Linked DNA regions of Homo sapiens: region 2 is linked to region 1. Evidence: fine-mapped expression QTL. Tissue or cell type: whole blood. Region 1 holds a variant in brackets; the other region holds the start of a gene. All regions are shown on one strand. Distances are from middle to middle.

Region 1 (8,100 bases):
TGACATTGACTTCAAGTCCACCCACCCTTTCCCTCTCCCAGAGATGGGTGTCCAGTGTCAGCTCACACACGCCCAGGGGAGGGGGCCTCACTTCTTTGCTTCCATTGGGTCTGTGATGAAATAATTCTGACTTAGTAGGAAGGACTTCATATCAGAATGAAGTTGGCCTCCCCAGCTGCTTCTGCCTTCAGCGGAGGCAGCCTTTGTCCCACCCCAAGTCCCTCTTGTTTAGCCACCTGCTTCCTGTGGTACAGGGATGCCCCTGTCCTGGCATGCAAGACTAGCTGGAGTCAGGCTCCTGGCCTCACTCTGGGGCCCCAGTTGAGAGCTGGGGCTGAGAGCAGACTTGGGGTGGAAGGAAAGCAGGAAAGGAGACAGCTGATGATGGGAAAATGCACAGGATCTTTGTTTCATAAATATATTTTATTTTTCAATGAAAAAGTTTGCACATTAGAAAAATTAGTAAGGGTCAGGGGTGGGCTTCCTGGGAGGATGGCTGAGATGGTTCCTCAACCCTGGTTGGTGGCCCTGTTGACCTTCACTGGGAACAAGTTCAGGGGCGAGGTCACAGCTTTGAGGAATTCCTCACTGCTGTGATTCAGGTCTCTCCTGTCCACCCTGCTCTGGGTACCTGGTGTGTTACTTGTGGGCACTTGTCACGCCAGCAAGTTGGCTAAGGATGGGCACAGAGCAGTCACACAGATACCAAAAAGGTCCAATTCATAGCCTCGCTGGCTGCCGACCTTTGGCCTCTGCATAGTGGGCTCCTGATAACAAGAAGTTAACCTGCACCCAGGCCACAGGTGCTCAGCCAAACATACGACGAGGCGCTGGATAAAACTCCAGCCCCTCCAGGGGTCTCTTGGGCTAGGAGAGCACAGATCGGTAAGGGGTCCGTCCTCACTTGGGCAACCTATTTGTCATGCCCAGCTGTTCCTTGAGCGCCCGCAGCTGGGCCAGGCTGATGTTGCTGCCCCCGCAGACGATGACCACGAGGGATGGCAGCGGGGTTCGGAGATTCCCCTCCAGTTGGAGCTTCTGGATCACGTGGCTATAGACAGCGGCCAGGGCTGCCCCGCAGGCGGGCTCCACCAGGATCTTCTCATCATCTGCCAGAGAAGGGGCGTGACAGGGGCGTGGCCTGAGTTTCCCAGGGTGCACAGGAGCTGACAGGCCATTGGCAGGACCTGGGAATACTGAGCCAATCAGCTCTCAGCCCTGGCTGCAGCCGCAGGTCCTGAACCAAACGTCCCGTCATCGGCCTGAATTGGCCCTTCCAAGCCTGAGCCAGGGCCTGGGTTTCATCATGAGTGCTAACACTGATAGAATGAGTGTGGTTGCGTGAGCACTGTGTTGAGAAGGATTCTGAGGCATCATCTGAGCAAGAGTTCCATGGTTGATTAGCCAAGTGTGCAGCAGGTACAGAAGCATAAATGGTACTATTTTTTTCTCTCTTTTTTGCCATCCCTGCCCTAGACGGAACCCAGAAAGAGTCCAGCCTAGTTACAGACTCACCTCTGAATGAATCAAACTCTGAGCCCCATGTTTTCCTTTTTTTACCCTGGCTGCCAGGAAACTCAGAAGCAACATTTTAAATATTCACTTATTGTTTTCTGCTGCTATGGTTATCAGGCTTACTTTTCTATTTACTTTTCCATTATGTGTGGCTTTTGCTTTTCTATTTCTACACGGCATTGTATTATCTTCTATTAATGGAAAATTCTAGGCAGAGGTGGAAGACAGAACTGTGAAGGAAACTTGGGGTGAGTGGGATCCCCAGTGGCATACCAAGTGGACAGCCACTTAGCGCCTGAGTCAGCAGGTCAGGTCATGGGAGGACCTGGCACATACCCACGAACTTCTCAATGGCGGCCACAGCCTCCTGGTCCGAGATAACTTCAGAGAAAATGGGGTGTTCCTGAAACAGCTTCAGGGCCTGAGCCCCCACAGTCTTCACGCCCAGGGCCTTGGCAACACTGAGAGAAGTGGGAACCCAGAAGAGGATGGGAGTGGGGGAAACAGGAGAGAGATGGGGGCAGGGAGGGAGAGAAGGAGATGGATGTGAGACAGAGAAGGCAATGCATCTGGGGGCAGGGGGACAGGTATCACCTCTGCAGCTGTAAAACCCTGAAAAGCCTCAGGGATCCCCAAACCAAGTGGGGTCTTCTAATAAGGTGCAGAGTGTTTGAATTGACATCATATAGTATATTCTTTAGTATCATTTTTTTAATTTTTTTGAGACTGAGTGTCACTATGTTGCCCAGGCGGGTTTTTGTTTTGTTTGTTTTTTTGTTGTTTTTTTGTTTTTTTTTTTTTTTAGACGGAGTCTTGCTCTGTTGCCCAGGCTGGAGTGCAGTGGTGCGATCTCAGCTCACTGCAATCTCTGCCTCCCGGGTTCAAGCAATTCTCCAGCCTCAGCCTACCGAGTAGCTGGGACTACAGGTGCCCACCACCACACCCGGCTAATTTTTGTATTTTTAGTAGAGATGGGGTTTCACTATGTTGACCAGGCTGGCCTCGAATTCCTGACCTTAGGTGATCCACCCCCCTCGGCCTTCCAAAGTGCTGGGATTACAGGCATGAGCCACCATGCCCGACCCCAGGCTGGTCTTGAACTCCTGGGCTCAAGTGATCCTCCTGCCTCGGCACAGCGTCATATTCTGATCAACACTAAGTCAGGAGCAAATGCCTAAGAGGACCCTTGTTGTTCCCTGCTAGGACTCCCTGCTTTTGCTCCGGGTTACAACCGCTACCTGGTTAACCCTCATGAAGCTTAGCACCACTCTGCCTGCCCACATCCTGCTGTGTCCTTCAAGGCTCAGGATTAAGGCCACCTCCTCCAAGGAGTCCTCCTGGGAGAGTACTGAGTCCCACGGCCCTATGTGGAATTCTCAAATAGTCCTCCCTGCTAGTAACAAGCGCCCTGAGTACTTCTTGAGAAAGTGTTAGGTGCCAAGCACTTCACAAGCATTATTGAATTCACACAAGAATTCTGCTGTTGTTAATTGGTTTGATTTTGGAAAGGGGAAACTGAGGCAGAGAGTGTACAGTCACTTGCCCAAGGTCACACACCTAGGGAGTGCTGGAGCTGGGGCTGCAAGCAGGATCTGTATAACTTCAAGACCTGCACTGGTAACCAATGTGTTGACGCTGTCCCCAGCTTCCTGGGGTGACCACTAGCTCTATTCCCAGCTCAGCTGCCCCCTCTCCCTTCCCCAGGAGCATCTTGAGGGCCTGAGCCACCTCAGCCCTCAGCAGCAC[G/A]TGGTTTACAGTAGGCGCTCAGCCATGACGTCTTCAGTCCCTACAGTGTGGGACACAGCAGCTCCAGATGCCAGGCTCAGGAATCTGGAAGAAGTTCTTACCTGGCTGGGCTCAGTCTTCCCTATCTGTAGGGGAGACTATTGTCTGCCCCGGTGTCTTTTCTAGCTGCACTTATGGGCACCTGGTGTAAAGACATTTCCCAGCCTCCCTTGCAGCTGGATGTGGCCATGTGACTAAGTTCAGGCCAACGAAAGGTAAGTGGAAGTGTTGTGTCTGTCTTTGAAGGTTGGAGCATAGCCTTCTGCCCTTGCTTCCCCATCCCTGCCAAATGGAATGTGGGTGTGATAGCTGGCACTCAGGCAACCATTTTGGACTGAAACACTACATGCTAAGGATAATGGGGAAACAAACTCAAGGGACCTGGCGCCCTGACTTTTCATGGTAAAGTTCAATCTCATTTAAGTCACTGTTATTTGGGCCTTCTGTGTAATGGGGTCAAAACCTAATCCTAATTAAATACTATCTACCAGCCGGGTGCGGTGGCTCACGCCTGTAATCCCAGCACTTTGGGAGGCTGAGGTGGGCAGATCACCTGAGGTGAGGAGTTCGAGACTAGCCTGGCTAACACGGTAAAACCCCATTTCTACTAAAAATACAAAATTAGCCAAGTGTTGGGGCAGACGCCTACTCCTGAGGCTGAGGCAGGAGAATCGCTTGAACTTGGGAGGCAGAGGTTGCGGTGAGCTGAGATTGTACCATTGCACTCCAGCTTGGGCAACAAGAGCGAAACTCTGTCTCAAAAAACAAAGACAAAAACAAACAAACTATCAAAGGTTTGGGGCTTGGATATGAACTCCTTAGGAGCAAGACTTGTGTTTATGCACCACTCTCTCCCCAGATCAGCCAGTGTCTTACACACAATAGGGGCTCAGTAAATGGTTGGCAAAGTAATGAGGTATGTAAAACCTTGCCACAGAGGACTCAGTAAATGATTCCTATGAGACCTTCCTTCCTTCCTTCCTTCCTCCCTCCCTCCCTTTTTCCTTTCCTTTCCTTTCCTTTCTTTCTCTTTCTCTCTTTTTCTTTCTTTCTTCCTTTCTTTCTCTTTTTTCTTTCTTTCTCTCTTTCTTTCTCTTTCTTTTTCTTTCTCTCTTTCTCTTTCTCCTTTTTTCTTTCTTTCTCTCTCTTTCTTTCCTCTTCCTTTCTCCTTCCTTCCTTCTTTCCCTCCCTCCCTCCCTCTCTCCCTTCCTTCCTTCCTTCCTTCCTTCCTTCCTTCCTTCCTTCCTTCCTTCCTTCCTTCCCTCCCTTCCTCCCTCCCTCCCTCTCTCCCTTCCTTCCTTTTTCTTTGTTTCTAGACAGGGTCTTGCTCTGTCACCCAGGCTGGAGTGCACTGGCATGATCATGGCTCACTACAGCCTCAGTCTCCTGGGCTTAAGCAATCCTTCCCACCTTAGCCTGGGACTATGCGTGTGTGCTACCACGCCCAGTTAATTTAAAAAAAAAACAAAAAACTTTTTTTAGAGGTGGGAATCTCTCTATGTTGCTCAGGCTGGTCTTGAACTCCTGGCCTCAAGTGATCTTCCTGCCTCAGCCACCCAAAGTGCTGGGATTACAGGCACAAGTCACTGTGCCCAGCCTCATATGAGGCTTTTCACGTGAGGAAGTGTGACATGTTGGAGTCACACAGACTTGGGTTTGAGTCCAAGCTGTACCACTCACTGGACGTGGCCCTGGGCAAGCGATCAAAGCCTCCATTGTCTCATCTGTGAAACAGGCTGACATCAGGATCTATCTCAAAGCCAGCCCTAAGGGGGACTCCCCAGTGCTTGCTGGACACCCGAGGGAGGCACCCCAGCTGCTCACCTGGTGATCTTGGGCAGGGAGACAAGTTTGCCTGCGGTGGTGGCAGCGTGGAAGCTGTGGGCACCAAAAGTCTCCATGGCGATGACAGGCACGTCCCCCCAGCCCACCTCCTGCAGCCCCTGGACCACTCCACACAGCAGGCCCCCGCCGCCCACTGACAGCGCGATGGCCCCCGGCTTTTCCCACAGTGTCTCCTTCAGCTCTTTCACGATGGAAGCGTGGCCTTCCCTGGAGGGTGGGGAGAGGGGGTGGCAGGTCAGGGCTAGGCTTCCTGGAGACACCAGCTCAGGTTTGCACCGGCCTTATCCCAGCTGATGGGGCCTGGAGCTAGTTCCCTCCCCACCCCCAACCTTGGCTTCTAGCTGCCAGCATCTGTGTCTCTGCCTGAGGACCTTCTCTGGCCACCTGAGCTACCTGCAAACAGAGTCAGGAGATGGCAGCCCCTTAAGGCAGCCCTCAACCAATGGCTACGAGTCGGTGTACAAACTCCCCTGCTCCTTCTCCCAGGGGGCGGGAAACTGCTGTGCGCCTTCTGCACTGGCTCCCAGGGTCCCCGAGGGATTAAGCTCTAGCCACCCACAGCGGCCACCTGCCTTTGAAAGCCCCCTTCCTGACATTTTGGACTGGATGATAGAAAAAGAAAAAAGAAACAGCAAAGCCCCCTTCCTTCCCTGGCTTACTTCCCCACTCCCCCACTGAATCACCTCCCAAATAAACTCCTTTCCCTGAAACCTTTGTCCCCAAGTCTGCTTCCAGGAGGACTCAACTGCAGACACTTGGGCATCTGTGTGCTTGCATGTTCAGCCTTGGGTGTGTTGCATGTGCAGCCGTGGATAATGGGCATTTGGTGACATGTGTGCACTTGCTGCTGCACCTGGGTGTAACGTGTGTTTCTTCTTTTTTTTTTTTTTTGTTTTTTTTTTTGAGATGGAGTCTCACTCTCTTGCCCAGGCTGGAGTGCAGTGGCGTGATCATGGCTCACTGCAACTTCCACCTCCTGGGTTCAAGCGATTCTCCTGCCTTAGTCTCCCTAGGAGCTGGGATTACAGGCGTGTGTCACCAAGTACAGGTAATTTTTGTATTTTTAGTAGAGATGGGGTTTCCCCATGTTGGCCAGACTGGTCTCAAACACCTGACCTCAAGTGATCCTCCCACCTTGGCCTCCCAAAGTGCTGGGATTACAGGCGTGAGCCACTGTGCCCCGCCTAAGTGTGCTTCTACATGGTGGTGTGCGCACACATGTGCAGCTGCTGTGCATGAGGACGTGATGATGTGCATCATAGCAATGCCTGCCCAGTGATATAGGGCAGTGGCTGCCACCCCCACCAAGTGACCTTGAACTCCACATACCAGATGAGGGGGTCATCAAAGGGGGGAATGTAGACCCAACCCGGGTTGTTCTTCGCTAGGGCCTTGGCCAGCTCGAAGGCTTCATCCAATAACTGCAAAGCCACAGGGGAGATAGGAGGGGGTGAGGCACAGGGGGCACCCTGTCCAGCCACCAGGCGCCCTCTCTCTTCCTTGCCCTGGGTCGGCACTCACCTCACCCACCACCTTGACTGTGGCACCTTCATTCTTGAGGCGCTCAATGGTGAGAGCAGGTGTGGTGCTGGGCACCACGATGGTGGCGGGGACGCCGAGTTGCCTGGCCGCATATGCAGCCGCCATGCCTGCGTTGCCCGCTGCCAGGGTCGGGGGTGGAGAGCGTGTCAGTGCGGGAGCATCTGGGAGCCCAGGCAGGACTGCGTACCCTCTACTGGGGGCTCTGGAGTTCCCCCCTCACCTCCCCACCCTGGGCGACTGCTGGCCTCCCCCTGGAATTCCAAATTGGTGGCTGCTGCCATTGTTTTCAGTGGCACATTGCTGGGGAAACCAGGGCTCAGAGAAGCAGAGTGTCTGATCCCAGGACACACAGCAGAGGACAGGATGGGGAAGCAGATCACTTACCCGAGGAGCAGACAAAATGTGCACAGCCTTGCTTGGCCCACTGTGGAGACAACAGGAGAGGCACTCAGGCCCACCTCCCAGTCATTGCCTGTGCTCTTCCTCCCCACCTGGAATACCTGCCAGGATTCCAGTGGACACGGACGTTTCCTTCACTCAGAATTTGTTCTACCCTTGTCTGAGACTGCACCTCCCATCTCCAAAGAGACTGGCTCAGGAAAGGGTGGAGGAAAATAGGCGACTGATGGCTCTGGGATCAGTCCCAAGGAACCCTCCTGGAAGGGCACCCCTCAAACAGAGGAAGCCCTAATGGTGGACGCTCAGTCCTTGCGGGGAGTCAGTAGGCTTATCCTACAACGCCTTTAATTTCACACAGCACTGGCCCTGCCCTGTTGAGGAAGGAGGACCTGCCACCCCTGCCCAGATAATGCTGACCCGGTCCCGTACCCTCTTGCAGAAGTGCCCAATGCCCCGGATCTTGAAGGAGCCGGAGGGCTGGGCACTGTCCATCTTGAGGTAGACGCTGGTGCCGGCCATTTTGGACAGGGCCATGCTGTCACGGATGGGGGTCTTCACGTGCAGGGGTTCTCCAGACATCATTCCTGGGAGAAAGGAAGGAAACCCAGAGGGTTAGGAGAGCTAGCCCCGGTGCCAGCACTGCCAGAGTGATCCCTTCCTTCGCTTCCCAGCAAGCCAAGCAAGGCCTCAGACGAGAGAGCATCCTGGAGACCTGGGCTCTAATCGCAAGTGGGCCACCTACTCACCATGTGACATCAGACAGGTAATCACGCCTTGGCCTCAGCTCTATCAGGGATCACCCTCCACTCCTGACCTCTCACACATTTGCTGGGAGGCTGAAGAGAGAACACTCAAACCTTGGAGCTTTCAAAATGCATGAGGTGAGGCCGGGCACAGTGGCTTATGCATGTAATACCAGCACTTTGGGAGGCCAAGGCTGGTGGATCACAAGGTCAGAAGTTCGAGACCAGCCTGGCCAACATGGTGAAACCCCGTCTCTACTAAAAATACAAA
Region 2 (8,100 bases), 27 kb after region 1:
AGCAGCCTGGCCAACATGGTGAAACCCTGTCTCTACTAAAAATACAAAAATCAGCCAGGCGTGGTGGTGCAAGCCTGTAATCCCAGCTACTTAGGAGGCTGAGGCAGGAGAATCCCTTGAACCCGTGAGGCAGAGTTTGCAGTGAGCCAAGATCGCGCCATTGCACTCCAGCCTGGGCGACAGAGTGAATGGTGAGACTCTGTCTCAAAAAACAAAACAAAATAAAGCAAAAGCAACAGCAGCGAACACAGAGCACTAACTACTGTCCTAATATTTTCCTGCATTAATGCATTTGATCCTCACATCCACTGTACTAGGGAAGTAGTGTTTTATCCCCATCTTACATTTGAGGGAACAAGGCACAGAGAGGTTAAGTGACTTACAAAAGGTCACAGGGTCACACAGTGAGAAAGTGGCAGAACAAGTATTTGTATCAGAGCCTGGCTGCAGGTCTGTGTTTTAACTACTAGGCATGCTGCTTGTTCATGCCAGAAACTACTACTACTATTATTGCTACTAATAATTTATATACAAATATATATATTATATACAAATATATATATATTTATATACAAATATATATAATATACAAATATATATTTATATACATATACATATTTATATACAAATATATATATTTATATACATATATATTTGTATACAAACATGTATATTTGTATACAAATATATATATTATATACAAGTATATATATTTATATAAATATATATTATATACAAATATATATATTTATAAACATATATATACACACACACATATATATATTTATATATGTTTTTTAAGACGGAATTTCGCTCTTGTTGCCCAGGCTGGAGTGCAATAGCACGACCTCGGCTCACTGCAAACTCCACTTCCCCGGTTCAAGTGATTCTCCTGTCTCAGCCTCCCGAGTAGCTGAGATTACAGGCGCCCACCACCATGTCCAGCTAGCTTTTTGTATTTTTAGTAGTGATGGGGTTTCACTACATTGGCCACGCTCAAACTCCTGACCTCAGGTGATCCAGCTGCCTCGGCATCCCAAAGTGCTGGGATTACAGGCATGAGCCACCATGCCTGGCCAATTAATATATTTTTTAAAGAGGCTCCATTTTTAAACTTTAATACCTACCTTAGCTTCTTCCTAAGCCATCATATCCATGAAACTATGGGTCTGATATTTTATATGTACATACACATACATATGTATACACATATATATATACCTACATACATACACACATCTTTCCTAATGCACACAGAAATAGATTGCCAACTATTAAAAAACCTTTGGGGGCTGGGCGCAGTGGCTGTTGCCTGTAATCCGAGCATTTTGGGAGGCTAAGGTAGGAGGATTGCTTGAGGTCAGGAGTTCAAGATCAGCCTGGGCAGCACAGTGAGACCTCGTTTGTAAAACAAACAAACAAACAAACAAACAAACAAATAAACAGTGTGGGTTACGCTGGACAGCATGCACGTGTTGGTGTACAGTAGACATGCACTAAATGCAGCTAGTCTGCTTCTTGTCAAAGTCTGAGCTGTGTGCTGAGTCTCTGCCTACTTCAAGAAGCCCTCCCTGATCTTGCCCCATCCCCAGCTACCCTATGGGGACTTTCTGCCCTCTGTCATCTTAGGAAGTGTTATTGTTGCTACCGAATTGGGTGTCTTCCTCTCCCCTCCATGCTGGGGGCCACTTCAAGGCACAAACTGGATTTTATCACCTCTGTGTCCCCAGTACCCAGTCCAGGACAAGGCACCCAACAAGGATGGATGTGTGTCTAAAGCGAGGATGGGTAGAAACTTGCCAGAGTCCACATTAAGGATCACGGCCAAGCAGCTCCATCTAACCCCAAGTGGCTGGGAGTTAATCATCAAACCTGGGGAGATCAGAAACAGCCCAAGAAGGACACACAACATCTGTGATGCCAGGTCTTCCTGTTCCCACTTTCCACATAGGGAAACTGAGGCCCAGAGATGGGCACGAGCTGCTCAGGTTCACCCAGTGAGATGGTGCAGAGACAAGACATGAATTTGACCATGTCATTCCCCCCACCTAAAGCCTTCTGTGGCTCCCTAGTGCCCCTGGGTAAGGTCCAAACTCTGGATTGGTACAGGCATCCCTGTGGACTCTGATCTCTGCCCACATCTCCAGCCTCAACCCCACTTGCTTCCCCACCCCTGCCTTCTCCCTCCCAGCCCCACTGGATACTACCCTGACCCTGGAATATATCATGTTTTTCATTTCCAGACCTTTGCACTCCCTGTGCCTGACTCCTGGCTCCACTCAGACTTCCCCTCCTCCAGGAAGCCTCCCCAGCCCCCCAGGGCCAGGCGGGGTGCCTGCTCTGGGTTCCACAGCCCTGCCCCACCCTGCCAGCTGCTAACATCTGATAGCACTAATAAGTGCTCTCTAATGGCCCTCTCTAAGGGCTTTGTGAAGGCAGAGGACATGCTATTTTGTTTGAGGCCAAAGTTCCAGGGATTGGCACATAGTAGGTGTCCAATAAACATTTAATGAATGAATGAATGGTCAGTCATTCATCTGAGTAGCAAATAATTGCTTGGGTTCTCATGCTGCGTGTAAAATATCCGAGACGGAGAGGTGCTTCAGACAAAAATATACCTTTCCCATGTCACAAATAATAATTATAATAATTGTTTCCTTGGCCAGGTGCAGTGGCTCACGCCTGTAATCCCAGCACTTTGGGAGGCAGAGGCAAGCAGATCACCTGAGGACAGGAGTTCGAGACTGGCCTGGCCAACATGGTCAAACCCTGTCCCTACTAAAAATACAAAAATTAGCTGGCGTGGTGGTGGGTGCCTGTAAACCTGGCTACTTGGGAGGCTGAAGTGGGAGAATCGCTTGAATCCAGGAGGCGGAGGTAACAGTGAGCCGAGATCGCACCATTGCACTCCAGCCTGGGGGACAAGAATGAAACTGTGTCTCAAAAAAAAAAAGTTCCCTTGTCCTTGTTTTCCCATCCCAGACCTAAGCTGACCCCAACAGTGGTTCAGCATCCGGGACAATCACTAGACCTAAAATGAGAAGACATGGAGATGCCTGCATCCCGGAAGAGATGGCCCAGGGCCAGGGGTAAAGGCTGTCTCTGCCCCTTGCTGTCTGGGAAGCTTTGGCCAAATAAGTTCCCTTTTCTGAGTTTCAGTTTGCTCATCTGTCAAATGAGACAGGGTGGTGCATGAGTCATAGGCAGTGCCCGGGAAAGCGGTGAGGGTTGCTCTCATCCCCTCTCCTCCTCCGTCTTCACCCGGAGGCTTAGGGTCTGGAGCTTTCTCTTTAACAAAGGAGGAGGGACCAAGGTTGCCGGAAGCTGCCTGAAGCTGGACAGAGCCGGTTCCTGGAAAGAGCTGGTTCCCTGGCAGGCTGGAGGGCAGGAGCTGGGGCCACGCTGGTCTGGGATAGTTGGGCAGGGAGGTAAGGGGTCTGGGGCCAGCTGGGGCCCCTGGGGCTCAGTGTGTGTGTGAATGAGAGGCTGATGAGAGGCTGCAGGAGTTTGGGAGGCTTTGGGCAAAGTCCAAGCTGAGCAGGTGGGAGTGAGAGGGCCTGAGCGTGTTCTAGGCCCTCCTGGGAATGTCGATTGAATTCAGGGTGCCCTGCAGAAGAAAGTGTTGTGCTGGGGACCCTGAAGGGCGAGAGTGGGTTCTGCCTGCCAGAGGGGCAGGGTTGGGCATTCTGCCAGCCAAGGGGCCAGCCCGAGGTGTCCCAGCCCTGGCACCAGGGATTTGGCTGTGGAGTGCCACCAAGGTGGCCTCTGGGGAAAGGCTTTGGGGACAAGTGAGGTGGACAGCACTGGTGGTCCTTACCTCAACTCATAGATGTGACAGGTAAGGCCCAGTGACAAAAGTGACTTGGCCAAGGTTGGCATGACTGGGACCTGAGCCTGAGCCCCCTGCTTTCCCCTGGGTTATTCCACAGCAGGGAGACCCAGGTCCCCCATTTCAGCCCTGGTGGCTGCCATACGGGACAAGAGGTGTGTGTCCCTGGGCCAAGACAGCTCAGTCCCAGACCTCAGGTGCCTGATGGGGTCTGGGGTTGATAAGGCTGTTGGCAACTTGGGGCTTTTTCATTTAACTGATGCCTGCTGTCCTCTTGTGAGTCAGTATAACCAAGAGGGCTGGGGAAGCCTGGAAACTGAGCCAGGAGCATTTGGTTCCAAAGGACAATTGGCAATAAATATTAAATGCATGCAGCTTTCATAATAGTAACGATAACACTAGTATATTAGAGAAAGTATAGCATCGCGGTTAATAGCACAGATGCCAAAGACACTGCCTGGTGTGAATTCTGGCTATGCTGTTTCTAACTGTGTGAACTTGGATAAGTTACTTAATCTCTCTGGACCTCAGGTTCACTGTTTATAAAATGGAGTCAATGGTGAGTTAATGACTCATCTGTTGTGAGCCAACAGGTGGCTCACACCTGTTATCCTAGTGTTTTGAGAGGCAGAGACAAGAGATTTACCTGAGGCCAGGAGTTCAAGACCAGCCTGGACAACTCAGCAAAACTGCATCTCTATAAAAATTAAAATATCAGCCGGATACAGTGGTGCATGTCTACAGTTCCAGCTACTCAGGAAGCTGAGGTGGGAGGATTGCTTGAGCCCGGGACTTCAAGGTTACAGTGAGCCATGATCGTGCCACTGCACTCCAGCCCAGGCAACAGAGTGAGACCTTGTCTCTAAAACAAACACCAAAAAAACAAGAAAGCGGAAGGATTATGGAGTAGGGGGAGTTCATCCTGACAATCCCAGGATCCCCAGGGGAAAAATCTGGGGATTTCACCAAAAAGGAAGAGAGACCCAATTCCAAGTGGACAGACACCCAACATGGGTGCCCTTACCATGCAGGCTCATTGAATCCTCACAATAGTCCTGCCATGTACACGCTCTTCTTGCAGTTTGTTGTGTGGTTGGTTGGTTCTCATTTTTCGGGTCTAATTTTTAATTTTTTATTATTTTTTTTGAGACAGAGTTTCCCTCTTACTCTCTAGGCTGGAGTGCAATGGCGCGATCTCGGCTCACTGCAACCTCGCCTCACCGCAACCTCGCCTCTCAGGTTCAAGCAATTCTCCTGCCTCAGCCTCCCGAGTAGCTGGGATTACAGGCATGCGCCACCATGCCCGGCTAATTTTGTATTTTTAGTAGAGACGGGGTTTCTCCATGTTGGCCAGACTGGTCTTGAACTCTTGACCTCAGGTGATCCGCCTGCCTCTGCCTCACAAAGTGCTGGGATTACAGGCATGAGCCACCGCGCCCTGTCTCAGTTCTTAGTTTTAATGGTCACTTCCTCTAAGAGGTCTTTCCTGACCTCCATACCCAAAGTAGGTCCCCTTGTTCTTCTCTTTAGGACTCCCTATATGCGTGTTTCCCTCTTAGAAGTTTTCAACATTTCTGATTATTTTGTTTGTCTATGCAGTTATTTGTTAAGTGCCCATCTCATCAGGCTATAATTCAGCTCCAAGGTTGATGTCTATCTTGTCCACAGTGGTATCCCCTGTTGCTAGGTCAGGGCCTGCATCTTGTAGGTGCCCTGTAAACATGCTAAAGTAAGGGTAAGCAGGTCACCATGCTCAAAGCATGACACAAGGTATCAGTGAGATAACGTCTCCAGAGGACTCAGCTGATGACTGGCACATAATAGGGACTCAACAAATGACAGATGTTATTCTCTCTCTCTCTCTTTTTTTTTTTTTAAAGACAGTCTCACTCTGTTGCCCAGGCTGGAGAACAGTGGTGAGATCTTGGCTCACTGCAATCTCCACCTCCCAGGTTCAAGCAATTCTCCCACCTCAGCCTCCCAAGTAGCTGGGACTACAGGTGTGCACCACCACACCCGGCTAATTTTTGTATTTTTAGTAGAGACGGGGTTTCACCATGTTGGCCACGCTGGTCTTGAACTCCTGACCTCAAGGGATCCACCCGCCTCAGCCTCCCAAAGTGCTGGGATTATAGGCATGAGCCACTGCACCTGGCCAATGTTATTCTTATTAACTTACACCACAACCTGTGAGTTGGGGACTGTTTTTATCCCCATTTTAGAGAAGGGGAAACAGGCACAGAGAGGTTGTGACACTTGTTTGGGTCACACAGCCAGGAAGTCGGAGCTGGTTTCTAACTTTTGCTTCTGGTCGACCCCAAAGCCTGTGCTCTTGGGGTCCAGGGTTGAGCTGAGGCCTAGGCTGGGGTATGCGGCATTTGGGGATCAGTGATGACCCATGGGCTTCTTTCCCCTGATGCCCGAAGCTGAGAGGTGCCCTGGGTGGGACTGGGAAGAGGTGGCTCAGGCTGTGCCCTGCCCGAGGGGGCCCTGAGGATTCTCAAGGCTATTCTGACAAGGGCGTGGGGTCAAACTCAGGGCCAAGAGACCCTGATCTCTCTGATCTTGGAACCCCAGCCATGACTTAAGGGTGGACAAGAAGGTTAGGTTTGTGAGTGGGCAGGGGAAGTTGCAGCGCCCCCCCTAGCGGCCAATAATGGAATGGTGGGGACCGGCCCAGTGCTTTTCTGCCTGGGACAAGAGGAGCTGGCTGTATTTTTTCCTTTTTTTTTCTCTACTATTTTTCCTCCCTCTCATTTCCTCCATCTCTTCTTTTCGTCCTTACCCACTGGTCCATTCACACACAGCTCCTCGGCTTCAAACCTCTCAAAGGGCTGAGCGCGGTGGCTCACGGATGTAGTCCCAGCACTTCGGGAGGCCGAGGTGGGCAGATCACTTGAGCTCAGGAGTTTGAGACCAGCCAACATGGTGAAACCCCGTCTCTACAAAAAATACAAAAAATTAATCAGGCGTGGTGACGTGTGCCTGTGGTCCCAGTTACTCGGGAGGCTGAGGCAGGAGAATCGCTTGAACCCGGGAGGCAGAGGGTGCAGTGAGCAGAGATTGCACCACTGCACTCCAGCCTGGGCAAGAGCGAGACTCCCTTTCAAAACACCACGACCACCACCAACACCACCACCACCTCCACCACCACCTCCCAATGGCTTTCCATTGCAGGTAGAATTTGAATAACAACCAAACTCCTCTCCGTGGGCGGGAACCCCCTGCTGGCACCCTTGTCCACATCTCCGCCCTCACCCCCTACCCTCACCTCCTGCCCCAAACCCCTTCTGTCTGCATCCGCGGCACCCCAAAGTGCATTTCTCCCTCGAGGTGGTCCTGGCTGCTGTTCTCTGTAGGAACTTTTCCTCTTGGCTCTCTTCCTGTCATCCATTTCAAAGTTCCCCTTTCAAGAACGTACAGATGGAGGCAGAGTTAAAAGACCCCTCAGCCAATCAAAATGCACGGATCTGATTTGCATCCTGATTCAAACCGTGAAAAACCCCAAACCACAACCAACCACAGAATCAGCCACTGATCATATTTAATGGGATGATTTGAAATGTGAACAATTAACAGATATTTGATGATATGAAAAAATTATATTTTTAGATGTGATCATAGTATTGTGATTACATTTTTAAAAAAATTAGCCTCAGTGAGGTATAATTTACATAAAATAAAATTAGCCCACTTTAAGTATAGAATTCAATGTGTTTGAACAAATGTATGTACAGTCATGAAACCATATGGTTACATATAAAAAAGGAGTTCTTAGGCCAGATGCAGTGACTCGCGCCTGTAATCCCAGCAGTTTGGGAGGCTGGGGCAGGAGGATCCCTTGAGCCTAGGAGTTTGAGACCAGCCTGGGCAACATAGTGAGACCCTATCTCTACAAAAAAGTACAAAAATTAGCCAGACGTGGTGATGTGTGCCTGTAGTCCCAGCTACTCAGGAGGCTGAGGTGGGAGGACTGCTTGAGCCTGAGAGGTCGAGGCTGCAGAGAGCTGTGATTACAGTACTGCACTCCAGCCTGGGTGACAGAGTGAGACTCTGTCTCAAAAACACAAGTTCTTTACCTCCAGAGAGACATGCTGAAATATTTACAGGTGAAATAATATAAAAGAATAATAGTAATTAAGGGGTAAATAATGACACAGGAAGGGGGAGTGGGCACCGATAGGGGAGCGAGTTAGACCATGAGTTGATTGCTGAAGCTGAAGGGTTTTTGTTTGTTTGTTTGTTTTTGAGACGGAGTCTCGATCTGTCAC

What was found. PIP is the estimated chance that this variant, and not a neighbour inherited with it, causes the effect.
Region 2: it holds the start of SDSL, and the variant in region 1 is fine-mapped to the expression of SDSL in whole blood (TOPMed, PIP 0.97).

What each region holds. Positions count from the first base shown.
Region 1 is chr12:113,392,041-113,400,140 of GRCh38, forward strand. It overlaps SDS (serine dehydratase), which reads right to left. Exons shown (of 8, transcript NM_006843.3): 2 at 7,516-7,670; 3 at 7,072-7,111; 4 at 6,667-6,806; 5 at 6,475-6,566; 6 at 5,125-5,352; 7 at 1,852-1,976; 8 at 405-1,109. The coding sequence starts at 7,668. The coding sequence ends at 901. Among named protein-coding and RNA genes, the nearest start is that of SDS, 7.8 kb to the right of the region's middle. RefSeq lists an enhancer at 1,174-1,373. The variant G/A (reference allele first, on the strand shown) is at 3,262.
Region 2 is chr12:113,419,050-113,427,149 of GRCh38, forward strand. SDSL (serine dehydratase like) reads left to right here and starts at 3,331. Exons shown (of 8, transcript NM_001304993.2): 1 at 3,331-3,428.